Homo sapiens: one gene and its partners. The protein of the gene in region 1 purifies or fractionates together with the protein of each later gene. This does not show direct contact. Each region holds a gene or a part of one and is shown on either strand. Other genes may lie near its edges.

Region 1 (6,387 bases):
AAAAAAAAAATTAGCCGGGCGTGGTGGCGGGCGCCTGTAGTCCCAGCTACTCGGGAGGTTGAGGCAGGAGAATGGCGTGAACCCGGGAGGCGCAACTTGCAGTGAGCCGAGATTGCGCCACTGCACTCCAGCCTGGGAGACAGAGCGAGACTCCGTCTCAAAAAAAAAAAAAAAAGAAAACAATTAGTGAATTTTTGCTGATGCTTTCCTTAAACCCCTTACTTAGCACTTAGTTCTGGATTCTTAAATCCTGATAATGGACTCATCCTTCTCGGTCTAGTTACCCCAGTAAGTCCCAAGGTCATCCATATGAGGTCCTCCTTGATCTTACTCTGAATAGAATTAACTGGTCTCTTCTGTTTTTCCATAGCATTGACTCATCGTGTTAGACCAGCTTGAATTGTGAGCCTTTCTAAAGCAGGGTCTGTATAATTTACCCTTATATTTGCTCTGTAGGCAGAGAAAATATTATTGAAGTAACTAGATGGTAAAATTAACTGTGCAATCAGAAAAGAAGTTAGAAAAAATTATTAAAATTTTCTGTGAAAATTGTTTTAATTTTATTAATATATTAAAGCATTTTGCAGACTATTCCATAAAGAATTTTATTACATTGGCTCTCATTTTAAAGAAAACATTATACCAGGTGTCAGAACTCAATCATATTTGTAGGAAGAATAAGCCTTGGCCATCAACAACGCTTCTTTGGTTACAGGATTACAGGAACTGCTGAGAATGTAAGCACTTTCCGAAGTCCACAAAGAACTCATTTAAAGCTCGTACAGGCAGTTTCAAATTAGCCAGGGAAAAGTTAATGGTGGGGAGGTAAGGTCATAGAATGCTCTATAAATGGAGGCGACGTGGAGGACAGTTGCAGTTGTATAACATTTGATTGAAGGAGAGGGATTTGGACCTGAGGAAACCAGGTCTATAAATACTAAGGCTGGCTGGGCACAGTTGGCTCATGCCTGTAATCTCAGCATTTTGGGAGGCTGAGGCCGGTGGATTGCTTGAGCCCAGGAGTTTGAGACCAGCCTGGACAACATGGTGAAACCCTGCCTCCAAACAAACAAAATTAACCGAGTGTGGTGGTGTGCACCTGTAGTCCCAGCTACTCAGGAGGCTGAGATGGGAGGATCTCTTGAGCCTGAGAGGTAGAGGCTGCAGTAAGCCCAGATTGCACCACTGCACTCCAGCCTGGTGACAGAGTGAGACTCCATCTCAAACAAACAAAACGTACATGCATATATAGGCTGTAGACTAAATAGTGAAATATTACTAAGAACCTTCATCCCAAGGGGTTGAGTGGTAGAACCACTGAGAATATTGTTGCTGCTCTTTTGGAGACAACAAACTGCATTAATAAAAGTCTGAGAACAAGAAAGTTGAGTTTTCAAGTAATGTCCTTTGCATATTGCTACATAGGGCTCATCTGAGTCTGTGATGTTCTACTTTGTTGATGAAAGAAAACAAGTGGAAATTCTGCTCCCCCACACATCCTGCACTGCAAAAAGATAACAAGTAGCAGGAGATACTCAATTATGATGCAGTTCAACAAAGAAAACAAATTAAAATAAAGAGATCCTGGGTGGTTAAATACAGAGTCTCCTTTGTAAACAGCAATGGATGATGATGATGACTGTTACCAGGGCTCTGTATGATCATTTTCCCAATTCTTTGGAGTACTTTTTTCAAAAGCACTCTTGTAGAATTAACTGGAAACATAGACTACCCTTCACTCATTACATGGGAAATGGGATTGAATTCTCTTCTTGGCAATGGAAAATACTTGATGCATGCAAATAAGAAAACTCTTACTTTTTCCTTCTCTCCTTGCAGGGGGAGCACGCGTCCTAAGCTTGCCAGGAAGCCCTGCTCTCCTGCCCTGGGCACCTCCGTTCCACTTGACCTTTTCCACCTGTACTCCCTGCATTTTGGTCTCTTGCTCTGGTCTTTAGCCTTCGCATTTTCCTGATGCAGCCCAAACCAGTCACCTCTCTCCTAGATTCATTCTCTGTGCTCAGACCATCTCTTTCCTTTAGTTCCTGTGACGAAAGAAAATGTATTTGGCCATTGGAGGTATAAGCAACAAAGAATCCAACCCACACAGCTTTATATATGCAGGTTCTCTATATGCTCTTCTTGTGAACAGCGTGGGGAGAGGAAAATAGACTTGGCAAGAGGACTAAGAACAGAATCGGACAGTTATCTGATGGCTTTCCTAAGGTTCAGGAAAGAACAGTGGTCCCTTTGTTGGGCCTTTCTGTTGTTTCTTTGTTTTCAATTTCACTGATTTCTGCTTTTTATTTTCTATTTTCTTCTGTTTCCTTTGGAATTCTTCTTTTTTTTTTTTTTTTTTTTTACTTCTTGTATTAGGCTCATGCTATAACAAACAACCCCCAAATCTCAGTGACTTTACACACTAAGAGTTTACATTTTCCTCATCAACGTCCACTTTGGATGTTCCAGGTTGGGTAATGCTCTGTGGCTGTCCTCTAGCTAGTGACTCAGGGACTTGGGTTGCTCCTGGTGTCTCCAGCGTGGTTATGGTGTCTCCAATTTTGGACTTCAAGGTGACCCAGGCATTATCCACCTGGTAAATTGGGAGATGGGTCCCAGGAAAGTGAATACTCAACCAACCTGGCCTAGAAGTGACAATAATAAGGCCATGTGTGGTGGCTAACAGTCAGAAACCCAACAATTGGGAGATTGAGCTGGGAGGATTGCTTGAGACCAGAAGTTCAAGACCAGCTGGGCACCATAGTGAGACCCTATCTTTCAAAAAAATATAACAACCAGGCTTGGTGGTGTACACCTGTGGTCCCAGCTATTTGGGAGGCTGAGGTGGGATAATCGCTGGAGCCCAGGAGTTTGAGGTTACAGTAAACCAGGTTTACACCACTGCACTCCAGTCTGGATGACAAAGCAAAACCCTCATCTCACAAAAGAAAAGAAATGACAATCACAGCCACTGCAACTTCAAGGAAGGTTGGGAGAGTGATATTGGTCAGGATGAGTGGTCTCTGACATGTTTCTTAAGTTGGATATTTAGCTTATTAATTTACAACTCTTTTCTAATATTAATACTCAAGACTACATTTTCCCCAAAACATTTATTTTGCCATGTTTTGCAAGGCTTGGTATATGGCATTTTCATTACTCTTTAATTCTAACTAATTTTTAATTTCTATTATGATTTATTATTTGATCTATGAATCATTTTGAAATTTGTTTTTGTAACCTTGGATAGGGAAAGATTTCTTATAGAAGACAGTAAAAGGGCTGAGTACAAAAGAAAAGACTAATAAATTCAGCTACGCTAAAGCTTAGAACTTTTCCTCATCATAGGACACCTTAAAGAAAATTTTTAAAAAGTTACAAATTGGGAGAAGATTAAAAAGTCCTAAGGGTTAGCAGTAAGAATATATACATATAATTATTACAAATTGGCAAGAGAATGACAAATCAACACAAAAACGAGCGAAAAGGCATTTTGCAAAAGAGAATCAGATGGTCCATATGCATGTGAAGCGATTTTCACTAGCGAGCAGGGAAAGTGAAGTCAAAATCACAGGGAGATGCTGCTCTCTACCTGACTGGCAAAACTGAAATGATTAGAAAATACTTGGAGGATATCCTAGAACGATCAGTGGGATCTGGTATATTATGTGTATGAGGTTAAATTAGCAGTGAGTATTCACATACCCTATGACTCAGCAGTTTCATTCCTAGATATATATCCTGGGGATTAGAAACACTAAGTAGGTGGGTGCAGTGGCTCACACCTACAATCCCAGCACTTTGGGAGGCCAAGGCAGGTGGATCACTTGAGGTCAGGGGTTCGAGACCAGACTGGCCAACATGGTGAAACCCCATCTCTACTAAAAATACAAAAATTAGCCAGGCGTGGTGGCGGGCACCTGTAATCCCAGCTACTTGGGAGGCTGAGGTGGGAGAATCGCTTGAACCCCGGAGGTGGAGGTTGCAGTGAGCTGAGATTGTGCCACTGTACTCCAGCCTGGGCGACAGAATGAGACTCCATCTCCAAACAAACAAACAAACAAACAAACCACTAACTACCTCAGAGGACAATGCTAACATTTCAAAGTGTTCTAGAAGTTGGTTTCCCAGAAAAGAAGTCAGGCTCTTGTGGAGCTCCATGGAAACTGGCAATGACCCATGACTTAGGGCAGTGAAGTCTCATCAAATGCAAGGCTTAGACCCCATTCTGCTGCTGCCGTCAGGGGAGGCAAGGGCTCCTTGTTCCCCAAACATCGATGCTAATGAAGCAAATCCTGCTGCTAGTTTGCAGTGTTGCCTAGCTGCAAACACAACCTCTGATGATGCCAATAGAGAGGCTGGTGCCTCCTTCATCATAGAGCTTACAATCCCCACAAGGTTTCGGGACCCTCTTTTGGATTCTGAGGGTGGGCTCCTTTAGCCATCTGTTTAGTGCCCCAGATGAAATTGACAGCAGGGGACCTGCACTCCTTCTACTGCTTTTTCTCAAGGCATCCCCAGCAGAGGGTCTCTAGGGTGCCTGTTATGTGTGCTGTTTGGCCATCTGCCTTTGTAGAACACAGCCCAATGTCTGTTGGCAAAAAAAGGTTTACATGTGGTATATTCTTACCATGGAATATTCTGCAGCAAGTAAAAATGAATAAATTACAGCTATTCATATCAAAGAGATGGATTTTATTAATATAGTGCTGAGTGGGAAAAAGCATCAGAAGACAACATATAATGGTACACTCTTTTTTTTTTTTTGAGATGGAGTCTCTCTCTGTTGCCCAGGCTGGAGTGCAGTGGCTCCATCTCGGCTCACTGCAACCTCCACCTCCCAGGTTCGAGCGATTCTCCTGCCTCAGCTGCCCGAGTAGCTGGGACTACAGGTGCGCACCACCACACCAAGCTAATTTTTGTATTTTTAATAGTGACGGGGTTTCACCATGTTGGCCAGGATGGTCTCTGTCTCTTGACCTCATGATCCGCCTGCCTCAGCCTTCCAAAGTGCTGGGATTACAGGCATGAGCCACCATGCCCAGCTACATTCTTTTTAAACATTCAGAAACAGGTAAAACTGAAAAATATATAATTTAGACACAACACTTATGTGAAAAGACCAAGTTTAGGATGTTGGTTACCTGTGACGGGGCAGCAAGATTGTGGGAAAGGAAGGAAGCTACAGGTATGTGACAGAGAGTTGCATTAGCCCAAATCTCTACAGAGCTGGTGTCAAGGATGAAACTATTGGTGTTTTATTTGGAAGATACAAGCCCAAGGCGAGGTGAGAAAAAAGAGAAGGGAAGCAAAAGAAGACACAAAGTGACACAAAATGGCATGAACTAAATTACGTTCTCTCCAAATTCACATATTGAAGTCCTAACCCCAGTACCTCAGAATGTAACTGTATTTGGAGATTCGGTCTTTAAAGAAGTGATTCAGGCTGGGCCTGATTGCTCACGCCTGTAATCCCAGCACTTTGGGAGGCCGAGGCAGGCGGATCATGAGGTCAGGAGATTGAGACTATCCTGGCTAACACGATGAAACCCTGTCTCTACTAAAAATACAAAAAATTAGCCAGTTGTGGTGGCAGGCGCCTGTAGTCTCAGCTACTTGGGAAGTTGAGGGAGGAGAATGGTGTGAACCCAGGAGGTGGAGCTTGCAGTGAGCCGAGATTGTGCCACTGCACTCCAGCCTGGGTGACAGAGTGAGACCCCGTCTCAAAAAAAGAAAAAAAGTGATTCAGTTAAAATGCAGTCATTATGGTGGGCTCAATCAAGGACATGTGGACACAGATATGTATGCACATGGAGGAAAGACCATGTGAAGTCGGGGAGAAGAAAACCAGCTACACACTAAAGAAAGAGGCGTCAGGCCGGGCGCGATGGCTCCCGCTTGTAATCCTAGCAGTTTGGGAGGCCAAGGTGGGCAAATCACTTGAGGTCAGGAGTTCGAGACCAGCCTGGCCAGAATGGTGAAACCCTCTCTCTACTAAAAATATAAAAATTAGCTGGGCGTGGTGGCATGTGCCTGTAATCCCAGCTACTTGGGAGGCTGAGGCAGGAGAATCACTTGAACCCGGGAGGTGGAGGTTGCAGTGAGCCGAGATGGAGCCACTGCACTCCAGCCTGGGCAACAGAGTGAGACTCCATCTCAAAAAAAAAAAAAAAAAAAAGCCTCAGAAGAAACCAGTGCTGCTGACACCTTGATCAGTCTTCCACCTGCAGAGCTGTGAGAAGACACATTTCTGTTGTTTAAGCTACCCAGTCTGTGGTATTTTGTTATGGCAGCCCCAACAAACTAATACACAAAATGATGCACAGCCTTGCTGACTATCACTTCAAAATGAGCCAAACAGAGACACAACGGGGCACTAGGCAATTG
Region 2 (6,208 bases), on another chromosome or scaffold:
AGACACACCTGGGATGCAAAATGTAAGGAGGCTCCCATGCTCAGGTCGTTCAAGTGCAGGAAAAGTTTGTGTATGTGTGAAACGCACAATGCCATGTGGTGTCTATAAGGGCATTTGAGGTTCTGTGCTTAATAGATGAAGTGGGTTCTGAGCATTGAGTCTGTGGATTCCTGATGAGTTTCCTGGTGCTCTGAGCTCCGTGAACTTGTAAACAAGCTTTTGTGTAGGTGGGTACTTACAGTTTTTGTCAGATTCCCAAAGGGGTCTGTGAACCCCAAAATATTTGGAATCACACAGTCAAATATCTAGGAAGACTACTTTAATTTTCTCTCTCAGCGTGTTGTGGATATGAGGAAGTGGAAAGGACTTGGACATAGAAGTCAGACAAAGCAGCCACATCTGAGTGGTCTCGTCCTGCAGTGTAGTGGTTAGACGGCTGGCCTTGTCAACCAGAGGGCTCCAGTGCAAGGTTCAGCCCTGGCAATGTGAGCAAGTCACTGTGTGCCTTCCTGAGATGATAATAGTTTGACCCCACTGTATACGAGCAGCCTTACCTGTCTCGGGTAGGTTAATTATATCCTCTCAGTCTTATTTCTTCATTCATTGATAATAGCACATCACAGGATTAACAGAATTAAATTACAAAGCCCTAATTTTTAGGTGAGTTGAAGCTGAGGAGCACACAACTTTTCTTACAGGGTGCACTCAATTCTCAATGTCAGAACCACCAGGGGGTCCTTGTACTTCAAAAAGACACATCTTACATGACAACTTCTTTGATTTACTTTTATGCCCAATATTCATTTTGAAACCTCACAAAGGAGAGCATGGTGTTGTTGTTTCTCAAAAGAGAAAGTAAATTTAGTAAGATTGAGAGCCATGAACCTAGACACAGTCACAGGGCACATAAGATTTCGGTCAATCACAGACTACATATATGATGGTGGTCTCATAAGATGAAGACACTGTATTTTGCCTGTACCTGTTCTATGTTTAGAGACACAAATATTCACCACTGTGTTACTACTGCCTGCAGTATTTAGTACAGTCGCAGGCTGTGTAGGTGTGTAGCCTAGAAGCAACCGGCTATGCCACAGAGCCTAGGGGTGGAGTAGGCTCTACCATCTAAGTTTTGTATACGATGTTCGCAGAACAACAAAATCACCTAATGACACATTTTTCAGAACAGATCCCTGTAGTGAAGCAATACGTAACTATATTTTGGGAACTTCCCCTGTATCCAGATAGTCAGTCCAAGAGCTGTGTGTTTGGATCTCACAGTGCTTGAGATCCTGAGAGAATCTCATTTCCTGAGTCAGATGTGGGCATTCTTTCTTGGCATGGGTACACTGCCGTGGCTTGTGCTGAAGGCTGCATAAGAAACAGAGGTTGGAAACTCACAGTGGAATTTATTGCTGAGATGACGTTAAGCTGTTCGCATTCCACCCAGGACCTCCACAGGAGAAGCCCAGAGAGGATGACTCTCAGACTCCAGATCCAGGAAATCCATGCCTCTCTGGAGCAATGGATGTCTTACAGACACTGTGACTCTTCAAACTGATTATTTTCTTCTTTGTGCTTGGACTCCAGGACACTTAGAACCCAATTTGCATCTAACCACTAGCAGTTTGGTGACAGCATGTCACAGTTTGTATTTCTGTGCACCAGCTTTATACACATTTTTTTTTCTGCCCTAACTTACCCTTTGGTCTAATTTCTTTATCTGTTTTTCTATCCTGTTGTATTGTATGTATTTTTATAAGCGGTCTCAAATCTTTTCTGGAAACACTAGGAAATGAATATATAAACAAATACAAGCAGGACAGCATTTCTGAAAGAGCCTGATATACAGTGAGGGTGCTCACTAAGGATTAGTTCCCTATCTGTGTACAAAACAGAAAAATTCACTGAGGGAGCCAACCTGCAGTCAAATGTCCAGCTGTGAGTCTATTACAGTTATAGAAATAGCTTATTTTTACACATATTCCACCTTAGATTGATTTGGGGGGTGTTTGTTTTTGTTGTTGTTGTTTGAGACAAGGTCTCACTCTGTTGCCCAGGCTGGAGTGCAATGGTTTGATCTCAGCTCACTACATCCTCCGCCTCCCGGGTTCAAGCAACTCTCCCACCTCAGCCTCCCGAGTAGCTAGGACTACAGGTGTGCACCACCACGCCCTGCTAATTTTTGTATTTTTTTGATAGAGACAGGGTTTCATCATGTTGGCCAGGCTGGTCTCAAACTCTGGACCTCAAGTGATCTGCCTGCCTTGGCCTCCCAAAGTGTTGGGATTACAAGCATAAACCACTGCACCTGGCCTGTTTTTTTGTTTTGTTTTATTTTGTTTTTGTTTGTTTGAGATAGGGTCTCGCTCTGCCTCCCAGGCTGGAGTGCAGTGGTGTAATCATGGCTCACTGCAGCCTCCACTTCCCCAGCTCAGGCAATCCTCCCACCTCAGCCTCCCAAGTAGTTGGGACCACAGGTGTGCACCACCACGCCTGGCTAATTTTGGTTTTTGTAGAGATGGGTTTTTACCATGTTGTCTAGGCTGGTCTCAACCTCCTGAGCTCAAGCAATCTGCCTGCCTCAGCCTCCCAAAGTGCTGGGATTACAGGCATGAGTGACCATGCCTGGCTCTACCTTTTATGTTAAAGTTTATATAAATTATTTCATTTTAAGATTCTTTTATTCCTGCCATTTCTGTGGTGCAATTGGATTTTTACATAAAGTTAAATAATACTTTTTATTTTGGCCAGGCGTGGTGGCTCACACCTGTAATCCCAGCACTTTGGGAGGCCAAGGTGGGAGGATTGCTTGAGGTCAGGGGTTCGAGACCAGCCTGGCCAACATGGTGAAACCCCATCTCTACCAAAAATACAAAAATTAGCTGGGCATGGTGGCAGGCACCTGTAATCCCAGCTACTCAGAAGGCTGAGGCAGGAGAATTGCTTGAACCCAGGAGATCTCAGCAGTGAGCTGAGACTGCCGCTGCACTCCAGCTTGGACGACAGAGTGAAAAAAATTAAAAATTAAATGATACTTTTAATTTTATTTACTATTTTATTTGAATAAATAAAAGGATCCTTTAAAAAGTATTACACACGAAAATAGGGTCAAAAGTCATAGCCCATTTTCTTGATTTTATTTGGTGCTTTATGGGAAAGGCTAAACTCTCTCTCTTTTTTTTTTTTTTAACACATTAGCATGGAAAGGAATCATTTCTACTTTGTGGTGTCTGTCTGTCTGTCTATCTGATGGGCTCTCTGGCACCTGCCAGCACACTGGGGGAAGTGTGAGGTCAAGATAGGCATCTTGTAGATGAAGAGCATGGCGTCCTGGTAAACGTTTAACAACCAGCTTTCCAGGAAACAAATGTATTGTATACATACATAAGTTTATAGTAACATGTACTGATATAAAGGATGCGTAGCACTTAATTTACAAATAATAACAAAATATGCAATAGTCTCTGTCCTAAATACCGCAGAGGTGATTGAGTCTCATAGAAAGCTCTCGTGACTTTGCACTGTCATATCCGTAGCCAAGCATTGGTTGCAGCAGATGAGCAAGTGTGGTGTTGGCACAAACACTGAAATGTTCATTCATGTTAAGGAGCAGATCAAAGTGAAACAACAAAGAGTTGGGGCAGGCTGCAGCCTTAGTGCCATGAGCGGCTTCTTTGTTGAACTGGGTAGTAGTTTTTCAATATTCAGAAAAGTTTCCTCAATGTTTTGTGCTACTCACAGTGTTCTAGCTACAGACAAGATGCTCTTTTAAGCATAGAAAATCCATGAAACAAATCACTGCCGACCTGTAGCATTTGCCTGTTCCTGTTGTATAAATACTCCCACCAGGGCCAATTTCAAGTTGCTAACATGACTTGCGTGAACATGGGTTCGAGATGCGCAGCAGCACAGCACGATAGAGTACTTCCGCCTTATAGACACAGTCAGTTAAAGAACCTCAAAGCATAGCTATTATTAAGATGCAGTAAAAATAATCAGGAAGTGATGAGGTTTAAGTATTTATAACCTTTGTTTTAATAGAATCCATTTAGTTGTATCTTGTATAATTCAACTTTAATTTTTTATCATTTTAATTTTATATAGTTTTTTTTTCTTTTTCTTTCTTTTTTATTTTTCTTTGAGAAGGAGTCTTACTCTGTTGCCCAGGCTGCAGTGCAGTGGCACGATCTCTGGTCACTGCAACTTCCACCTCCTGGGTTTAAGGGATTCTCCTGCCTCATCCTCCCAATTAGCTGGGATTACAGGCACCCGCCACCATGCCTGGCTAATTTTTGTATTTTAAGTAGAGTTAGCCAGGCTGGTCTTGAACTCCTGACCTCAAGTGATCTGCCCAGTTCGGCCTCCCAAACTGCTGGGATTACAGACATGAGCCACCACGCCCGGCCCGTATAGTTTTTATACCTTAATCTTGCATAATGATTTGAATAATTCAGCTCACAAAATTCCTGAGAATTTAACAACCGGCTCTAGCATACCGGCACAAGCTGGCCCCCAGTGCATCACTGACGGGGAGGCCGAGTGTCTTGAGGCCACACTGCAGATCAGGGTCCTGCCTGCAGCCAAGTGGGGACAAGTGGAGAATAACTTGCCTCCTGGGCTCTCCTGAGTCCCGAGCCTGACAGCGGAGGCCCAGGTGGGTGACCCTGCTTTGTGCTCGGTGGCAGGGGAAGGGGGGTGGGCCTGTGGGCCTGGATGGAGAACCTGTCCCCATGGCTGTCATGTCCCTACACCAGCTGCTGCCAGCCACTGTGGGGTTCGCAAGTCCCCACTCGCAAAACGGCTACTGTTTTCCACAACCATGGGATACAAGGATGTCCCCTTGGGCTCCTTCTCATCTCTACTCTCTGCTGGCCTCTTTGCACAGATTGATACCTGGGATGCTGAGCCAGGACCAGAGGGAGGTAAAGACACACCTGGGGTGCAAAACTGAAGGAGGCCCTGATGCTTGAGGTTGTTCAAGTGCAGAGAATGTTTGTGTATGTGTGAAGCACACAACCACACGTAGCATCTAAAAGGACATTTGATGTTCTGCACTTAATAGATTAAGCTGGTTCTGACCTTCTAGCCCCTGGGCTTCTGATGAGTCTCCTGGTAGCCTGTCAGCTCCTGATCTTGGATGGGAGCTTGTGTGTAGGTGGGCACTCTTCTGCAAAGTGCGTTTATGGCTTTTATCTGGTTTCCTCTGATCAGAAAGATCTGGGGGTGCTGGCACACCCAGACGACTAGTAACTCCCAAAGGGAGAGGTGCAGCTTTGTCACCTGCCCCTGTGTCAGGTGGGACGTGAGATGCTCTATTTTTTTCTGCTCCATCCTGTGCCCAAGCCTTATACAGGGTGACCCTTTTCAGAGAGGCCTTTGCCACCAGGTCAGTGTGAGCATGTGGCTGGGTGATTTCCTGCCGTGGACCAGGGATCTGTGTGCTGTCTGAAGTAAGCAAGGGTGCTCTTTCTTGGCAAGGTCTGAGGGCTGAGACTTGCAAGGAGACACCTGCTCTCTTGGTCACCAGACTGGAGGTTCCTATGTGCAGGTGTGGAGGATGGAAGAGGTCACTCTGTCCTCTTTCTTGCCTGGGCCTCACCTCTGCTGAGGCTGCTGGCTGCCCTGGGCTCGCAGTGAAAGGGGCCATCTTCCACCCTCCCCTGCTGGTCAAGTGCATCTTTCCAGGTTCCGGCACTCCACGTTGCCACCCAGACAAGTGTCCTGTGGGAACTAGCAAGTGGGAATCAAAACTACCCCCAGAGAGGCTCCTGGCCGGGAGATGAAGGGATCTACCCTGGGGCTAAAGTCTCCCCAGCCTTTCTTGGAGCTTAGGTCCTGGCTTTAGAAAGATCCCATTCACATCCAGGCACAGTGGCACACACCTGTAATCTCAGTACTTTGGGAGGCCGAGGCAGGCGGATCACTTGAGGTCAGGAGTTTGAGACTGGTCTGGCCAACATGGCGAAACTGTCTCTACTCAAAATGCAAAAATTAGCTGGGTGTGGTGGTGTGCGACTGTAATCCCAGCTACTCAGGAGGCTGAGGTAGGAGAATTGCTTGAACCCAAGGAGGCAAAGGTTGCAGTGAGCTGAGATCGCACCATTGCACTCCAGCTTGAGCAACAGAGCGAGATTCCATCTCAAAATAAAGAAAGGAAGGGAGGAAGGAAGGAAGGAAGGAAGGAAGAAAGAAAAGAAAAGAAAAG
Region 3 (5,362 bases), on another chromosome or scaffold:
GGACTCCTAGGTCTGAGGGAGGAGGAGCTGGGGGCCTGGACTCCTAGGTCTGAGGGAGGAGGGGCTGGGGGCCTGGACTCCTGGGTCTGAGGGAGGAAGGTGCTAGGGTCTGGACTCTTGGGTATGAGGGAGGAGGAGGTTAGGGGTCTGGACTTCTGAGTGTAAGGAAGGAGAGGCCAGAGAAAGGAATTTCTGGGTCTGAGGGAGGAGGGGCTGGGGTTCTGGACCCCTAGGTCTGAGGGAGGAGGGGCTGGGGCCTGGACCCCTGGGTCTGAGGGAGGAGGGGCTGGGGCCTGGACTCCTGGGTCTGTGGGGGGAGGGGCTGGGGCCTGGACCCCTGGGTCTGAGTGGGGAGGGGCTGGGCCTGAATGCTTTCTCCTTCTCAGCTCCAGCAGGAGAGGCCCTTCCTCGCCTGGCAGCCCCTGAGCGGCTCAGCAGGGCACCATGGCAAGATCCCTTCTCCTGCCCCTGCAGATCTTACTGCTATCCTTAGCCTTGGAAACTGCAGGAGAAGAAGGTGAAAGCTGGACTGGGAAGTCTGACCTCACCTCAGGGCCCCCACTGACCCTCTCCAAGGAGTCCCTGAGTCAGAACCCTTCCCTCCTCAAACAGCTTCCATCCTGGGAGGACCAGACTGTCGGCTGAAGCCCCCGCTCTTCCTGCTTCTGCTGACTCAGGGGGTCTCTGTCCCCTCCAGGCCCTGCCTCCTGTGCTCAGGGTCTCTCTGTGGTTCCCCAGATGAGATGCGCCTCCTGGGTTTCTGAGTGGGCTCCTTCTGTCTGTCTCTATCCCTATCTCTTGCTTTCTCTGTATTTCTCCACACATTTTCATCTGTCTCTGTCCATCTCTGACTCTGGGAATCCCTGAGGTGCAGCCTCAGCCTTCCCCTAATGCTAGCTACCCACGTGCTCCTCCATGTCTCCATCCAGCCCAGGGTGACAAGATTATTGATGGCGCCCCATGTGCAAGAGGCTCCCACCCATGGCAGGTGGCCCTGCTCAGTGGCAATCAGCTCCACTGCGGAGGCGTCCTGGTCAATGAGCGCTGGGTGCTCACTGCCGCCCACTGCAAGATGAAGTAGGTGCCGCCCAAGTCTCTGCTGGAGGTGCACCAGCGTCTCCAGCTCGCTATGGGGGTGGAAGGGCAGTCTTTCTGTGCCTACGGCTCTATTCTCCTCTCTCTGGGTCTCTGTCCTCCTCTCTCTGGGCCTCTGTACCCCCTCTCCCTGGGGCTCTGTCCCCCTCTCTCCCTGGCTCTCTGTCTCCCTCTCTCTGGGTCTCTGTCCCCCTCTCTCTGGATCTCTGTTCCCCTCTCTCTGTGTCTCTGTCCCCCATTCTCTCTAGGTCTCTGTTCCCCCTCCTCTCTCTCTGGGTCTCTGTCCCTCTCTCTCTGGTCTCTGTCCCCCTCTCTCTCTGGATCTCTGTCCCCCTCTCCCTGGGCCTCTGTACCCCCTCTCCCTGGGGCTCTGTCCCCCTCTCTCTGGGTCTCTGTCTGCCTTTCTCTCTGGATCTCTGTTCCCCTCTGTGTCTCTGTCCCCTTCTCTCTCCGGGTCTCTGTTCCCCCTCCTCTCTTTCTGGGTCTCTGTCCCTCTCTCTCTGGGTCTCTGTCCCCCTCTCTCTCTGGTCTCTGTTCCCCCTCCTCTCTCTCTGGTCTCTGTCCCTCTCTCTCTGGGTCTCTGTCACCCTCTCTCTCTGGGTCTCTGTCACCCTCTCTCTCTGGTCTCTGTTCCCCCTCCTCTCTCTGTGGGTCTCTGTCCCTCTCTCTCTGGGTCTCTGTTCCCCTCTCTCTCTGGTCTCTGTTCCCCCTCCTCTCTCTCTGGATCTCTGTCCCCCTCTCCCTGGGGCTCTGTCCCCCTCTCTCCCTGGCTCTCTGTCTTCCTCTCTCTGGGGCTCTGTCCCCCTCTCTCTCTGGTCTCTGTTCCCCTCTCTCTGGGTCTCTGTCCCTCTCTCTCTGGGTCTCTGTCCCTCTCTCTCTGGATCTCTGTCCCCCTCTCTCTCTGGGTCTCTGTTCCCCTCTCTCTGGGTCTCTGTCCCCTCTCCTCTCTCTGTGTCTCTCTCCCCCCTCCTCTCTCTGTGTCTCTGTCCCCCCTCCTATCTCTGTGTCTCTCTCCCCCCTCCTCTCTCTGGGTCTCTGTCCCCCCCTCTCTGGGTCTCTGTCTCCCTCTCTCTGGGGCTCTGTCCCCCTCTCTCTCTGGATCTCTGTTCCCCTCTCTCTGGGTCTCTGTCTCCCCTCCTCTCTCTGTGTCTCTGTCCCCCCTCCTCTCTCTGGGTCTCTGTCCCCACCCCGTCCCCCAGGTCTTTGCACACCCTCTCTGTCACAGTGTCTCTTCTGAATCTGTGAATGTCACTCCTCGCAGTGAGTACACCGTGCACCTGGGCAGTGATACGCTGGGCGACAGGAGAGCTCAGAGGATCAAGGCCTCGAAGTCATTCCGCCACCCCGGCTACTCCACACAGACCCATGTTAATGACCTCATGCTCGTGAAGCTCAATAGCCAGGCCAGGCTGTCATCCATGGTGAAGAAAGTCAGGCTGCCCTCCCGCTGCGAACCCCCTGGAACCACCTGTACTGTCTCCGGCTGGGGCACTACCACGAGCCCAGATGGTAGGTGGCCTCAGTGACCCAGGAGTGCAGGCCCCAGCCCTCCTCCCTCAGACCCAGGAGTCCAGGCCCCCAGCCCCTCCTCCCTCAGACCCAGGAGTCCAGGCCTCAGCCCCTCCTCCCTCAGACCCAGGAGTCCAGGCCCCCAGCCCCTCCTCCCTCAGACCCGGGAGTCCAGACCCCAGCCCCTCCTCCCTCAGACCCAGCAGTCCTGGGCCCCAGACCCTCCTCCCTCGGAACCAGGAGCCTGAACAACAGCCCTTCTGGTCCTCGCCCCCATCCTCTCTGACTGACAGCTCTCCCTGCTCCTCCCTGCAGTGACCTTTCCCTCTGACCTCATGTGCGTGGATGTCAAGCTCATCTCCCCCCAGGACTGCACGAAGGTTTACAAGGACTTACTGGAAAATTCCATGCTGTGCGCTGGCATCCCCGACTCCAAGAAAAACGCCTGCAATGTGAGACCCTCCCCCCCAATTCCTCCCCAGTCCTGGGTACCCTGTCTGCATGCCCCAGGGACAGAGCTTGACCCGAGTGACTGGGTACCAAGCCCGGCCTTGCCCTCCCCCCAGGCCTGGCCTCCTCAGCTTTTTCCACCTCATTCTCTGCCTAGGTCAGGGGTGGGAGTTTACTTAGGGGCCAATGTGGCCCTGGGGATGAGACAGAGAGTTTAATAGGGGTGAGAAAGTGGGGGTGGGACCAGGGAAGGAGACTGAGGTGCTGGCCTCAGGCCCAAACCTTAAGGGGGCACCAAAAACCTCAGTGATTGAGATAAATCATAATGCAATATTTAAAAATAAAAATAAAAACTCATGCAGAAGTCCATGATGGACAAAATGTCACATTTTAAATAAAGAGCAGGTGGATCTTACTGAATTTTCCCTTGCCGTAAGTACTAGCGTGGCTCAGCACAGCGCTGTACTGGCACTGTCTTCATTTAAAATGTGGATACCATGCCCATCATGCAGTTTTATGTATTACATTTGATTTCGTTAAGTACTGCATTGAAGTATTGTGTATTGCAGTTACTGAGATTTTGTGCCTGAAGCTGATGACTCACTCACCTGACCCTGGCCCTGGTCCCGGGGAAAACACTCTTTCTCTCCACCTCCTCTCTGTTCCCTCTTTCTGGCCTTTTGTCATCCCCTCTGTTTCTGAACAGTCTTCCCACATCTCTCTTTGTGACATAATTTCATTTCATTCTTTTCCTCTTTGTTTTTTCTCTGTGTTGAGCTAGCTTGCTCTCCCTCCCTTGTTCTCTCTCCATGCCCTCCTCTCTGCTCTCTGTCTTCTCCCTCTTTCTCTTGCTTCTCTCTCTCTCCTCCCCTCCCTCTCTCCTCTCCCTGCCCCCCTGCTCTCTCTTTTTTCCTCTCTCTCTGTCTCCTCTCTGGCCCTCTCCTCTTTCTCTCTCTCCCCCACTTCTCTGTCTCTCTTCATCTCTCTCCCTCATCTCTCCTTGCCCCCTCCTTTTTACTGTCTCTCTCTTTCTCTTTCTTCTATCTCTCTCCTCTCCCTGCCGCTCCCCCATCTCTGTCTTTCTTTCTCTCTCTTTATTCTCCTCCTCTCTTCCAGTCTCTCTCTCCTCTCCCCACCCCCACCCCATCTCTCTCCCCACACCTTCCCCCCCTTTCTCTTTGTCTCTCTCTTCTCCCTCTTTCTTCTCCACCCCCATCTCTCTCTCTCTTCTCTTCCCACACCCTCCCCATCTCCCTCATCTCTTTGTCTGTCTCTCTTCTCCCTCCTTCTTTTCCACCCCCATCTCTCTGTCTCTCTCTCTCCCCATACCCTTTCCCTCTTCCTCATCTCTCTTTGTCTCTCTCTCCTTTCCCTCTTTCTTCTCCACCTCCAACTCTCTCTGTCTCTCCACACCCATCCTCCTTGCTCACATCTGCACCTTCAGCTGTCAGGGGATGTGGGATGGTGAGTGTTAGGGATAGAGGAGATGGGAGAGAGATGACTGTCCTAGAGAATAGGGTGTTCCCCTTCTCCCCTGGTGAGGGCCAGTTTCATGAATGTGCAAGCTCTGCACGGACACAGAGCCCCACACTCAGAAGGGTCTCAAACTTAGTCTAATGCATTCCTGCTGTTGTCTTGAAATTCTCAATAATTTTTGAACAAAGGGCCCTGCATTTTCGTTTTGCACCAAGTCCTGTAAATTATGTAACTGGTCTTCACCCTGGTCTCCGAGACCATCGTGTCCCCCTTTCCTGCGCCACAGGGCACGCATCCACCCCTTGGAGATGATGTTCCTTCTCCCACTAGCTTGGAGCAGGGTCCTTAACATTGGAAAATAAAGAGTGCTCTGATCCTGGAAGCCCCACCCCTTCTCTGCAATTGGTCTCATTGGCCAAGGGTCAAACCAGTGTCTTCAAAGGACCTAGTGTGTCCCTAGCACTAGCTCTCCCATTAGTCCCCAGAGACAATGAGTCTCTTCTCATTGGCTATGGTGGAAGTCCATAATCTGCAAGACAAAGACCGATAACTGAGGAATGTATGAGAATGAGTTGGGCTTTGATCTGAAGCCAAAGTTAATCTCCGGCTCTATTCCCTCTAGGGTGACTCAGGGGGACCGTTGGTGTGCAGAGGTACCCTGCAAGGTCTGGTGTCCTGGGGAACTTTCCCTTGCGGCCAACCCAATGACCCAGGAGTCTACACTCAAGTGTGCAAGTTCACCAAGTGGATAAATGACACCATGAAAAAGCATCGCTAACGCCACACTGAGTTAATTAACTGTGTGCTTCCAACAGAAAATGCACAGGAGTGA
Region 4 (6,387 bases), on another chromosome or scaffold:
CCCAGCTCATGAAGCTGACACCCGAATACCAGGAGGACCAGTACTTACAGGCACCCAGATGTGTTCAGAGCCGCATAACCTATCCATAGCCCAAGTGAACTTATCTTCTGTTTTCTCTCACTCTCTCTCTCTGATCTCTCTCTGTCTCTCTCTCTCTCAGCTTATGTCTGTCTACTTCTTTATGTCTCATTGGCTCTCACTTTTTCTCCCCACCTTTATGACTGTTATCTCCATTTGGCTCCTTATTATTTTCTGCCACATTCTCATGAAGGGCAAAACTGCCCTTGGAACACCATGTAGGCCCACTTCAGAGCTGAATCACTTCTATCTTGTTCCCTTAGGGCAGATGGCTTCTGATGTGCTCAAGAAAATAGATTCATTAATGGAAATGGGCTCCCCTCCATGACCTCACTTTTATGGAAAAAAATTGGAATGCATTAGGTTACTAATAACAAGGGATAACTCCTAAAAGCCAAAGTGGTACTCCTGTTCTGCCAAAATCTATCTCCACAAAAGCTTTTCAATCAACATCCCATTCCCATTCTTGCTCTGAAGTTATTGCCATTATTTTATGACCCAGAGACACATGAGAGAGTGCAAAATGTTCTTTCTGACAGACCCTATCCAGCCCAGAAAGAGGGAAGAGCAAAGGCAAAGACTTGAACAGGAAAGAGTGGAACTGGCAAGAGGCCAAGCCTTCCCATAGGACAAGGACAGGACGCTAGAGCTTCCCATGCTGTCAGAATGGTGTTAGCAAAAGATGAGAAGAGAAGGGTCTGAGAGGTAGCAGTGGCATTATAGTTAAGGCAATTGTAGTTTCACAAATGCTCTCCCAGATCTCAAGGCCCAAAGGTAGAGCGTGGTTAAAAAATAGCAAAGGAAAATGGCAGAGGAACACTTGACAGTTAGTTGGGGCTTGGGCTCTGGATTCAAACACAGAGAACTTTGACAAACTTGGCAAGATCTCTCTTTTTGCTTTCTAGTTAAACCCAAATAGTCAATGCAAGCCATCAATCTTGTGATGTTCCACTCCCACCTCTTTCTCTACCACCCAAACCCAAGTCTCAGATTCCAACATTAAGAGAAAGTGCCAATCTTATGCCTACTCATTCACTGAAGAAAAATCCAAACCAGAGCATGCCCATTAATACTAAACAGGCTGAGAAAACAGCCGGCCTTGGCTGTCCCTCCCAGGCTGTCTCTGAAAGGGTAGTTGCTGTGGATGGGCCTGGTTGCCACATGGGAAAGAGGGGGGCCAGAGAGGTGACTGGGCCTTCTTCAGAGGACAAAGGCCAGAAATAAACAGGAAAAAACAGCAATACCCAGGCACCAGGTTTTTAATATACATTACCACTATCAAAATTTACACCTGTGCACCAACTTAAACTTCACTGCCCCGAAGGACAAAGGGTAGAGAAAGGGGCACAAATGGATGCTAGACCCTTCCTCCTAGGGCCAGAATATCAACAGACCTAAAACTGAAAGAGAAATTTTCTAGTTTTTCACTTTAATAAAGTTAGAAGTTAACTTCCTCTAGACAGTGGCTAAAGGAAAAAAATTAAGATGCCTCTTTGAGTGATGCGGATACTAATGGGGTGATTTTTAAAGTCTTTTGCAGATCTCCAGCACAAGCCTCTGCTAGTTGATCTCACGGTAGAAGAAGGTCAAAGATTAAAGGTTATTTTTGGTTCACACACTGGTTTCCATGTAATTGATGTTGATTCAGGAAACTCTTATGATATCTACATACCATCTCATGTAAGTACTCAGAAGTAGACTTTCAAGGGCTCTCTGTACAACAGCCTGCATGTAGAAAGAGATTTGTTTTGCATAGTTTTAGTAGAAGTCATGCACACTTTACTAACCAGCAAATGGACTTTCGTTCTTCATTAAGTATACTGCTTTTAATAACTAAAATATATAAATTTAACTAATTTTTATGACTTCCTAAAATTGGGGAATACATAATAGAAATCATTTGGCATTTACATGTTGTCTCTTTGGACTTTAGATTAAAATGAATATGACATATTTCTTTCAAGGGCATGAATTATATTCGGTAGACAAGTTTCCACATTCAGTTTTTGAAGGGAAATTCGTTCATTTTATGTTAGAGAAAGCCAATGGTCAGGTACTAATTTATTGGAGAAAATTCTTTTTTTGCTATTTTTAGTTCCTCTCTTCAGCTTGAGGGCAGTGTGGTACACTGGAGTCAGACACAGTGGCTCTAGCATGTATTAGCTTTGCAGTAATGGACACAGTAGGCAGCCTCTCCAATCCTCAGCTTTCGCATCTGTAAAATATGGATAAAAAGACTTATCCCATAGGATTATCATTAGTATTAAATGAGGTAATGGATCTAAAGCAGTTGGTACAGGGCCCTGCAAATTGTAGATCTTCTTATTAGCCCTAAAATATTCATATTACTATCCTGACATATTGCTTGAAACATAACTGTTAAAGGGAAATGCTGCACATGGATTCACTTATTAGGATTAAGTGTAGTGTAAAGTGTGTGTCCTGTGTGTAATCCCAAGACTAACACACAGGAGAAACTATTTATCAGGAATGTTTGAAGCTACCGCTGACTGGTATTTTGAGAGTTTTAAGACTTTATTCTAATGAAACGCAATAACTAAAAGAAGTTGTTTCAGTATATTACATACACACACACGACTGCCATTCATTGCTGCATTATTACCACTTTTAACTCATGTGGATGTGGGTGAACACAAGGACTCACAGCTCACATTCCTGGTGAGGCAGCTAAGGTGTAACTATGATAATCCTCAACTCTCTTAGTCCAATCTGTCAAGCACATGTTGGGCTGCCATGGCATTCTCAACTAGGGGATCACAACAACATCACATTTCCTTTCCTAGAACAAATTAATATACACTTATTTCAATAGTGATTTTTTTTTTTTTTTTTTTGGATACGGAGTCTCGCTCTGTCACCCAAGCTGGAGTACAGTGGCGTGATCTCGGCTCACTGCAAGCTCCGCCTCTCCTGGGTTCACACCATTCTCCTGCCTCAGCCTCCCGAGTAGCTGGGACTACAGGTGCCCACCATCATGCCCGGCTAATTTTTTGTATTTTTAGTAGAGACGGGGTTTCATCGTGTTAGCCAGGATGGTCTCGATCTCCTGACGTCGTGATCCGCCCGCCTCGGCCTCCCAAAGTGCTGGGATTACAGGCATGAGCCACTGTGTGCGGCAATAATGATTTTTTTTAATGAGTGGTCATTCTAAATATTTTTTCTAACCAAGCCATGAATTATTCTGGCATTTAGACACCCGGATAAACAATCCTATATATATATTTTTTTTTCACAGATTATTTTGGTAGTTCATTTTGACCCCACTTAAGCTATCTCCATTAGATTCAGCTGGCTTACATTCTCCTCATCTTCTTTTGGAAGTGGTTGTGCTAATAGAAAACACATTAATTTCAACGTCAGCAAGATATACACAAATCCCAACTCTACCAACAAATACTAGCACAACTTTGGTTAAGACACAAAGCCCTTCTGAGATGCAGTTTCCTCATCTGTAAACAAAGCTATCTACCTTGGGGAGCTATTGTAGGTACTAGAAATTATATATGTAAAGGGCCCCATGACTGGCACATAGTAGGTGTGCCATAGATTTACATGCTCTTTTTAGGAACAGGTAAATTGAATTTTTAATCTAGTGACTAAGTTTGATTTACCAGGGTATTTTACAAGTCAGTGGTTAAATTAAAGCAAATTTCAGTCTTTAGGGTGACAATGAAAATAAACAAAAACCTCTTTTTTGCAGTTGTTAGAGATGAATAGTCAAGGTGTTTTATTTTTTAAAAGAATAATGCTTGGCTTTTCTTTGTCTTCTAGATTCAGGGCAATATCACTCCTCATGCTATTGTCATCTTGCCTAAAACAGATGGAATGGAAATGCTTGTTTGCTATGAGGATGAGGGGGTGTATGTAAACACCTATGGCCGGATAACTAAGGATGTGGTGCTCCAATGGGGAGAAATGCCCACGTCTGTGGGTAGGTTAACCATTCCTTATCTCCTTCAGCAGTTACACCCCCCAAATGAAACGAAAATCAAGAAATGTGAAACAACCATTTGATTCCACAAAAAAAAAAAAAAAAAAATCTGTGAATAACTCTTGTAAGACTTGCTTTGTCCATTTATCTCAAGTCGTTTGTCATTTTTGTGGTTAAGATGTGAACAGATGCTGTGAGTTATTGCCCATCTAATGTTTTTAATGCAGTTTTGGAAATTCCTTTTGACAGCCTACATTCATTCCAATCAGATAATGGGCTGGGGCGAGAAAGCTATTGAGATCCGGTCAGTGGAAACAGGACATTTGGATGGAGTATTTATGCATAAGCGAGCTCAAAGGTTAAAGTTTCTATGTGAAAGAAATGATAAGGTAAATCCGTTTCAACATTTGCATTAGTGTTTGCATTTTAAGAGACCACCAGGTACCTGTGAAACCTTCATTTTCCTTTATACTGATTTGAATCACATCTGTGTTAAACAATCAATATTATCTTGAAATGGCATTATTTGGTTTGATCCATGTGAGCACTCAATATATTATTCACATGTCAAAAACTACATAAAAACATTTAGAAATTTCTTGTAAACCTCTTAGAAACCTTTGTGGCCTAAAGGCCTTTTGATGACTCAGCAGACACCCCAAATTCTCCTAAGCACTTAGAGCAGTTGGCCCATCATTAATCATCTCACAGTGGGTCAACTTTATACTTCCACTTTTAGACTTTTCACAAAGTCACTTTCAAGACCTAACCAATCACCTTATATTCACCTTTAAATCCAAAACATTTGACGTTTAGAAATATAAGCTTTTTAAAAATGTCACCCATTCCTTAAGGAATGCACAATCACAAACTCAACTAGTGCCATGTCTTGTGTCATTCCAGCCATGTTTCTTCTGAAATGTCATAGGTGAACTGTTTTCCAGTGAAATTGGCTGTGTCCGTCTGGCATGATCAGTGACCTCAGAGGGGTATTCTGCAGCAGTACTGCTTCTCCCTTACCCTCCCTGTAGAGTAACCCCGAGGTTTTAGTAGCTAAGCCATACTGCATTTGTGAATTCATCCTTTGTGGCTGTGGCCAACATAGAAATGCTGTCCCCAAAGCCACAGACATAAACGCCTATAGAAAAACAGTATGATGGGTTGAATTTTTGTATATCCCTTTGTCCACCCCAGTTCCCCAAAGGTCAGGTTGGTCTTAGTCCAAACCTGGTGATGTGGGCCTAAACTATATTCAACCCTGGCCCACTACTCTGACCTGATGTGGTCTGGGTGGACAGTAGCTGCAGGTGGCAAAGATGGTTCCAGCCATTTAGATTTCCCAGAAAACAAACATAACCTAGTAAAACTCCAGCTCCCACCCAGTCTCTAAGAATCAAAAAACCAGGAGTGATCTGGGTATGGATACCCACATTCCGATTGAAAACCTACCCCAGCAGGGCTGTTCCAAGCCATGCCACACCCTTAGGAGTAGGCTGGGGCCACACCAGTTGTCTGCAACCCAAGGTTTACAGCCAGGGGCACACAACTTGGAGGGAAGAGCAGCCCTTTCTTTTCTTCATTGTGGTTTTCCATAGGCCCTCTCTGTCCTTCTCCGTTTTGATTCATTGACCCTAAGAGTAGCATTACTTTCATATGCAGCATTAGGTGAATGTCAAGCATTTCCAGAGACCTCCCTAAGAAGTTGTTGTTAGCATTCTTCTGAAGAAGCTGTAGAAATGAAGTAGCAGAGACTTTAGACTAGTGACAAAAGCAACTACCTAACAAAAGTTAGGTATTGACTGACTGAAGGGCTAGGCCATAGCCCAAAATATTACTTTCCTGGGGCAGTGGTTCTTTAACATTAAACATTCAGCTCAAGCAAGCAGTAACCCAAATTTTTCTCACGTTTGTCAGTTGTTTGATAAAATGACTTAACAGACTCAGACCTAATGGACTGTGGTTCTCCTCATTAATGCTATGATCTCATTTGCCCTGGGATATGCCACCATCAGCAGAGAAACCATGCGTTAACTCTTGAAATGCCAAAATGAGTAGGCATTAAATACCTTGCCCTATCTGACCACACTATTTAATGTTTTTATCTTAAATTTAAAAAACTGAAATCTGAAACTGTATGATAGTCAGTAGGCCTAAAACTCCCCCTTGACTTTGAGAATTTGAAGGGATTCCCTTCCATCCTGAAGTCTACTTTCTTGTCATTTAAGGGTGAGAGAAGGGAAGCTTCTGTGCCTTTCTAGAAATTAACAAAGAACCTGTTGGGTCCTAGACCAGAAATCCAGCACGTTATCCTAGCATGAAACTCCCTTTTAAAAAGTGAACACCCAAAGAGATGTTAC
Region 5 (6,387 bases), on another chromosome or scaffold:
AATAATAAATGCCATTCCAGAACAAGTTTCTGTTCTTCTAGTCTTTCTATATGTAAGAATTATTATAAATATTTATATTATAAAGAAATATATATAAATATGATATAATATATACATATGTGTTTCTCAAATCCAAGCCCATGGACTGTATATCAAGCAAAATTTAACAGTGAAGTCTGAACACCGTAAAAGATTGTAAACACTCCTTTAGAGTGCCTTATAATGGAGTTTGGCCTAACAAAAATGGCACAGAAATACTTTGTGTCCCTTCTTTGCACCTTGGTAATGTTCTCTGCAGCCAGGTTTTGACTAAATATATTATATGCCAAGGTCAGTGTGAAAAAATATTAGAACAGGCATTTTTGGGGGGAATATATTTAGAAAAATGAGAATTCCACTGATTTTCATTGAAACAATAACTGGGGAAGATATTCCAGAGAATTCCTGTGCTGTACATAGTTTTATTAACCTTATTTGTTTAGTTACAGTCTCATTGTTTTTGCAGTTTTTCACTCACTAAAACAAATGTACTGCCAGTGCAGCTATGAGATCTTGAAGTGGTGGCCAGTTTTGGGTTACTGCAACAGTATCAATGTCCGTGCCAGCTGGGTGCCTTCAGAAGGGTTTTGGAGCGTGCTCCAACCCACTTGCCTATGTGGCCATGAAGGAGTCTTGGCCTGGCTGTTTTGTGAATCTTGATAGAGATCCCACGACCTCACTTTACCTAAGATAGATCAATGTGTTAGGCTGTGTGGAATCATTTGTGGAGACTCCAACAAGTAGATTAAACCTTTGATTTTCCTGGGAAACTCATGTTTTACACTGCATACTCTCCAAATCTATTCGATGTCGGGATGTATAAAAATTGTCTAGGAACATGAGCTTTTTGCTTGGATTCAAATCTTGATTGTGCCCCATTGTGTAACATTGGACGAATGACTTAACTGCTCTACCCTGATATCCTCACCTGTGAAATGCAGAGAATAGCAGTACTCACCTCAAAGGGCTCTCATTAGAACCCACTGAAATATTTCATGTAAAGATTCTTGTATACAATGAGCAGTGAGTTACTTGACTTCTCATTGCTCCGGTTTCCTCATCTGTAATATGGGGATGATGATAACAATAATAATAGTATCTACTTCCTGGGATTGATAGAAGATTAAATGAATACATATAAACATTTAGGACAGAGCCTGGTACATGTAGGCACTCAATAATGATGAGCTATTATTATTATTTTAGGTCTTACCCTGATGAAATTGGACCAAAGCACTGGCCAACCTCCCGGTTTGCCCATGTGATGAAACTACGACAGGCAGCCCTTCGAACTGCGAGGGAAAAATGGTCAGACTACATTCTGGTAAAAACAGATGTTTGATTTCTTGACAACTGTCATCTCAGGTGTATCCAAATCAGTCGTCCAAAAACTAGAACCATGGAAGCAATCAAAACAACCTTTTTGATTAGGCAGTGCCTCCCCCACTTTTTAAGAAAGGCACAATGAAATTTTTGGTAGTTTAAAATTGGGCTACCTGGACTTCATCTTCAGGCCCACATGCATTTTCAGTGGGTAAGTGAAGAAGTGCCTGAATTATTTGGTCTCTGCCATGCAACAGGCATAAGAACTCTGCATATTTTTAGCTCACAGGAAAGGCTGTAGGTAAAGCAATGTAAGTTGTTCTTACAACTTTTTGGAAGAATTTGGGGGATATGAAAAAGTAATTATCTAAAAAAGTGATTCAGCTGAACAGCTCTGAAATGGTTCCCTTTTGCTCCTGAATGATCTGGGGAGTAGCATCTGTTGCTTGGCACAGTGATGCTCTCTTTGGAGAATTTATGTCCATCCCCATCCCCTCAACCACAGTGAAAATCTGCCCAAAAATGTATCACGCACACTTGTGACACAAATCCTTTCATAGAAGTTTTCAAATTGTACTGACAATATTTAACATTGTGTAGCTGTTTAAATGCCATTGAAGTGTACAAATGTTAAATCACAAAATTTGGGGTAAACAGATGGACTATCATAAAAATGAAGACTTCTGAATTTTTTATTGTGATAAAACCTACAAAAGGTAAAATCTGTCAGTTTATCCCTTTTTCAGTGTATAGTTCAGTATGATTATTTCTTTTATAAATTAGAATCTGTTGTTATACTGTCTCTAAATAAATCACTGTTAACATGGACTTCTAAGAATAGGAAATAGCTTCACTGGTTAGCATGGGTTGATATAATGTACTTAAACAAAAATTCTACTTGTCACATTAAAATTCATTGATAGATCTGTTTTGAGCTACTCTGGCATTACTATAGAAAAGCTAAGTAGGCATGCCCATCTGTACCTAGACTGGGCAGCCAATAAGTGTTTTTGAATGAACCTTTAATGGCTTGGGAGCCATTAATATCTTGTGCCTAAAACACTAGCCAAAGTGTAGGTTGGTTCCTGGTTGAGGCTATGCCCAGTATGGCAGCACCAATTTACTGCTTAGTGCCTTATGCAGAGCCCAACATACGAAAGTTAGACTAAATATATTTTGACTGAATGAAAGCCACCTAGCTGCAATGGGTTTCAATAAGGAGGACATAGATAGCTGGTTCCATATGTCATGAGCAAGTTTCTGGGATCCTTCAGAAGGGCTGGGTTATTCTCAAACTCATTACTGAAAAGTACCTTTTCACCTAACATTATCCTTTTCTTTTCCTAGTTCATAGATGTTGACAATTTCCTGACTAATCCACAGACCCTCAATCTACTGATTGCAGAAAACAAAACTATTGTGGCCCCCATGCTGGAGTCTCGGGGCCTGTATTCTAATTTCTGGTGCGGAATCACCCCTAAGGCAAGTCTTTTGCTTAAATGAATTAAGGCTACTAGTTTTAACAAGGCAACACCCGGTCAACAGTAGTCCCATTCACCTTTCTCTTGTTTACTCCCTTGAAACATGCGTGTCATTGTGTTCCCAGAGCAAGCATTTTTTAGGAAGGGCAGTAAATCTGGGTCCAATGCTACACCCAGTTGGGCTCTTCTGTGTTAATTTATTATGAAAAAAATAGTCTAAAGAGCTTAGCCTTAGAAACGTCAAATTAGCCAATTCCTGATTCAGGAATTACTATTTTTAATTAATTCTTTTTGTCCTTACAAAACTAACATAAGAACACTATAGAAAAACTTAGAAATTAAAAAAAGTTTAAAAGAAAACCAACAAGACAGATGTTAAATCCCCATCACCGTAACAACATCATAGATAGAAACTTGCACGTTTTTAGTAACTGTGTTATCATCAAGTGGCTATGTTCCAATTTACTTAACCTTTATCTCGGTTTGAAAAACATTTAAATTATTCACAACTTTTTAACTATCGTGACCGTCATGATTAATATAATTTTTCAGCATTTAAGATTATATCCTTAGGATAGCTTTTTAGAAGTGGAATTACTGAGTCAAACAGTACAAATATGCCAGGCGCGGTGGCTCACACCTGTGATCCCAGCACTTTGGGAGGCCAAGGCGGGCGGATTACAAGGTCAGGAGATTGAGACCATCCTGGCTAACATGGTGAAACCTCATCTCTACTAAAAATATAAAAAATTAGCCAGGCGTGGTGTTGGGCGCCTATAGTCCCAGCTACTCGGAAGGCTGAGGCAGGAGAATGGCGTGAACTTGGGAGGCGGAGCTTGCAGTGAGCCGAGGTCGCGCCACTGCGCTCCAGCCTGGGTGACAGAGCGAGACTCCCTCTCAAAAAAGAAAAAAAAAAAAAAAGTACAAATATTTCAATGACCTTCGATGTATGTTGCCAAATTTATTTCCAAAGAGTTCTAATAATGAAAACTACCATGGTAGGTTATTTTTATAAAATTCAAGTTAAAAAAGGTTTGATTTTTTATTATTTCTTTTTTTCATAGTAAAATCTTCAAAATAGTGGTCTGTTTTAGTGAATGCTCATGGCTGGTTATATTTTTTATTCTTTAATTAAAGAATTAGATAAATTCAACTGATTAATGTAATATGTATCAATGTAGGATAAAAATGTGCTAAGCAAAATATGTTGGCCAGGAGCAGTGTCTCATGCCTGTAATTTCAACACTTTGGGAAGCTGAGGTAGGACAATTACTTGAACCCAGGAGTTTGAGACCAACATGAGCAACATGGCGAAACCACATCTCTACAACAAATCAAAAAATTAACCAGTTGTGGTGTCGTGCACACCTATAGTTCCATCTATTCGGGAGGCTGAGCAGGGAGTATTGCTTGAGCCCAAGAAGTTGAGGCTGCAGTGAGCTATGATCACACCACTGCACTGCAGCCTAAGCAACTGAGACCCTGTCTCAAAAAAAGAGGGAGTATGTTCAATGTATTCTCATGGCCAAAGGGCTAAAGTTTGAGTCTCCCCTTTATATTTGGTTTTGTTTTGGATGAGAAATAAGGTCAGTAGTGTGCTGATAAATGTTTAATAACTGGCTCTTTGTGGGAAAAACCCTAGTTGGTAGCATTGCCAATTTTTATGGTTTAAATACTCCCACCATGCAAACAGCTTAAATGTTGTTAAGCTAAGGGAAAGGTTAAGTAAACTGCAGTATAGCCACTTGATGATACAGCTATTAAAAACATGTAAAACTGCCACATGAGGTGTCATTAGAGTGGTGGGGATTAACGTGATTTTTGTTTTTATGGATTCCAAGCTATCAACATGTCAACTGGTTTGCAAACTTTCTGAAAATTTAACAATGTGTGGTCCAGTACACCACTGGATGAAGCATTCCTCTTTTGTTGTAATTATTTCTTCTAGCTGTAAGAGATTTTGAATGCGTGCTATTTTCTGTGTCTCTTTTGGGAAGGTAATATGTTCATATTTCTAACAGCCATTCACTTCCTTGGGAGAAAACATTATATTGGTTTAAATTCATACATTTTCAGTGTTTCACATGGCAGAATCACTTGAGGGTTGTTTTTAATGAGTTGTGCTTTGACATCAGCAACAAGGGTGGGTTATCCTAGTGGCCGCAGCCTACAAATTTGTATTATCTCCTTATTTACTTTCAGGCTTAAAAGCAAATAGGAGAAATGTGCTCACTTGTTTTGTACAGTAAAACTAAATTCTGAGCAACTTAGGGACAAGTATTATTTTCCTCCATTTATTTTTGGCTTTCTACCATCCCAGTTAGTCTCTACTAGAGCAGGAATAGAAAGGGCCAGTGACTTCATAAATTCAAAGCAGGACCTGGTTCCCAGAGCCTTTAAACTCATTCAAAACAAAATGTCCTTGATGTTGTCTGGCCAATGAACAGGAATTATTACCAACAAGATTCAATTTATGTGGAAAAAGGAACACATTCATCATCTCTGCCTCTTTGCAGGAGGCACATTTATTCTCCCTCACTCTCCCTGCTTCCTTCCTTCTCACCCCCACCCCAAGGATATTCAGTGATTCATCATCATCATGGATTTTCCAAGCTAATCATTCTGGGAATATTGTTCCTAAGTAATCTAGAACTTTATATTAGACGCAAGTACTTAGGCAGCCCTTTAAAAAACCCGAGTCCCCTTTATCTCTTGGAAGACTGCTCATAAGCTGAAGTATTAGGAAAACCATAGAGGATGTTAAATGATCCTTAAGTTAAAGGCTAATAAAAACATTATAGTAATGATAATACTTCATATAATGAATTGCAGTTCCCAAAATAGGTTCATAGACCTTATCACATGTGATTCATTCTGCAGCTCTATGAGATTGACAGAGCAGCTGTTATCCCATTTTTCAGGAGAAAAAACTCAGGCTCAAAGAGGGTAGGCATGGACTAAGATCAAACGGCTAGAAGGTGATTAAGATGACTCTGAGACCCACATCTTCTGAGTCCTCATTTTTGATCCTCCTCCCTTATCATGGGGTCGGCATTAGGGTTAGCTCAGCTAGGACACTCTTCTAGAACCTGAAGGGAATGTCAGAGAAGTAGGTGAGGCTGTAGCACCTTATGTGTGGATGCTGAATTACAACAGGAAATGTAACCATGAAGTGATGCAACTGATTAATGAACACATAAGAACTTCCAGAGTATGGTGCCCTTCGGAGTGCTGGCTTTGCAAAACTTAACACTCATTCCAGTGAGCCTGCCATCACCTAGAACATTTTCCAAAATGCCTGGCAAAGCTTCCACAAGTATGTTTTGTAAGCATGTTTTGTTGAGATATATCTTCATCTTTTCTGGAAATGATTCAAGCTTTGGAATAAGGAAATTGGTTGTCCTGTGTGCTTGTGCAGAAGGACGTTTCAGAAGCTGAATCCCCAAAAACTATGGAGCAGCTGCAGCTTCACCAGAATATTGACTAAGTAACTGCATTGAAAGAAGACCCTCATTTGTATATCTAAGTAATGCATGTTTAATTA

The links.
Region 2: the proteins of CNKSR3 (region 1) and BLK purify together in Homo sapiens (affinity purification with mass spectrometry; one large-scale study listed by BioGRID and IntAct). This does not show direct contact.
Region 3: the proteins of CNKSR3 (region 1) and KLK7 purify together in Homo sapiens (co-immunoprecipitation; one large-scale study listed by IntAct). This does not show direct contact.
Region 4: the proteins of CNKSR3 (region 1) and TNIK purify together in Homo sapiens (co-immunoprecipitation; one large-scale study listed by IntAct). This does not show direct contact.
Region 5: the proteins of CNKSR3 (region 1) and COLGALT2 purify together in Homo sapiens (affinity purification with mass spectrometry; 2 studies listed by BioGRID and IntAct, with this or other methods). This does not show direct contact.

Annotation. Positions count from the first base shown.
Region 1 is NC_000006.12:154,390,590-154,396,976, reverse strand, and holds part of CNKSR3 (connector enhancer of kinase suppressor of ras 3), read left to right. Parts: 3' UTR 1-6,387. UniProt on the Homo sapiens protein: Involved in transepithelial sodium transport. Regulates aldosterone-induced and epithelial sodium channel (ENaC)-mediated sodium transport through regulation of ENaC cell surface expression.
Region 2 is NC_000008.11:11,498,179-11,504,386, forward strand, and holds part of BLK (tyrosine-protein kinase Blk), read left to right. Parts: intron 1-6,208. UniProt on the Homo sapiens protein: Non-receptor tyrosine kinase involved in B-lymphocyte development, differentiation and signaling. B-cell receptor (BCR) signaling requires a tight regulation of several protein tyrosine kinases and phosphatases, and associated coreceptors.
Region 3 is NC_000019.10:50,977,482-50,982,843, reverse strand, and holds part of KLK7 (kallikrein-7 isoform 1 preproprotein), read left to right. Parts: intron 1-386; coding exon of another isoform or gene 387-444; coding exon 445-517; intron 518-929; coding exon 930-1,077; intron 1,078-2,356; coding exon 2,357-2,604; intron 2,605-2,919; coding exon 2,920-3,056; intron 3,057-5,152; coding exon 5,153-5,308; 3' UTR 5,309-5,362. UniProt on the Homo sapiens protein: May catalyze the degradation of intercellular cohesive structures in the cornified layer of the skin in the continuous shedding of cells from the skin surface. Specific for amino acid residues with aromatic side chains in the P1 position.
Region 4 is NC_000003.12:171,064,219-171,070,605, reverse strand, and holds part of TNIK (TRAF2 and NCK-interacting protein kinase), read left to right. Parts: intron 1-1,608; coding exon 1,609-1,758; intron 1,759-3,870; coding exon 3,871-4,030; intron 4,031-4,279; coding exon 4,280-4,419; intron 4,420-6,387. UniProt on the Homo sapiens protein: Serine/threonine kinase that acts as an essential activator of the Wnt signaling pathway. Recruited to promoters of Wnt target genes and required to activate their expression. May act by phosphorylating TCF4/TCF7L2.
Region 5 is NC_000001.11:183,970,073-183,976,459, reverse strand, and holds part of COLGALT2 (procollagen galactosyltransferase 2), read left to right. Parts: intron 1-1,245; coding exon 1,246-1,363; intron 1,364-2,709; coding exon 2,710-2,844; intron 2,845-6,387. UniProt on the Homo sapiens protein: Beta-galactosyltransferase that transfers beta-galactose to hydroxylysine residues of collagen.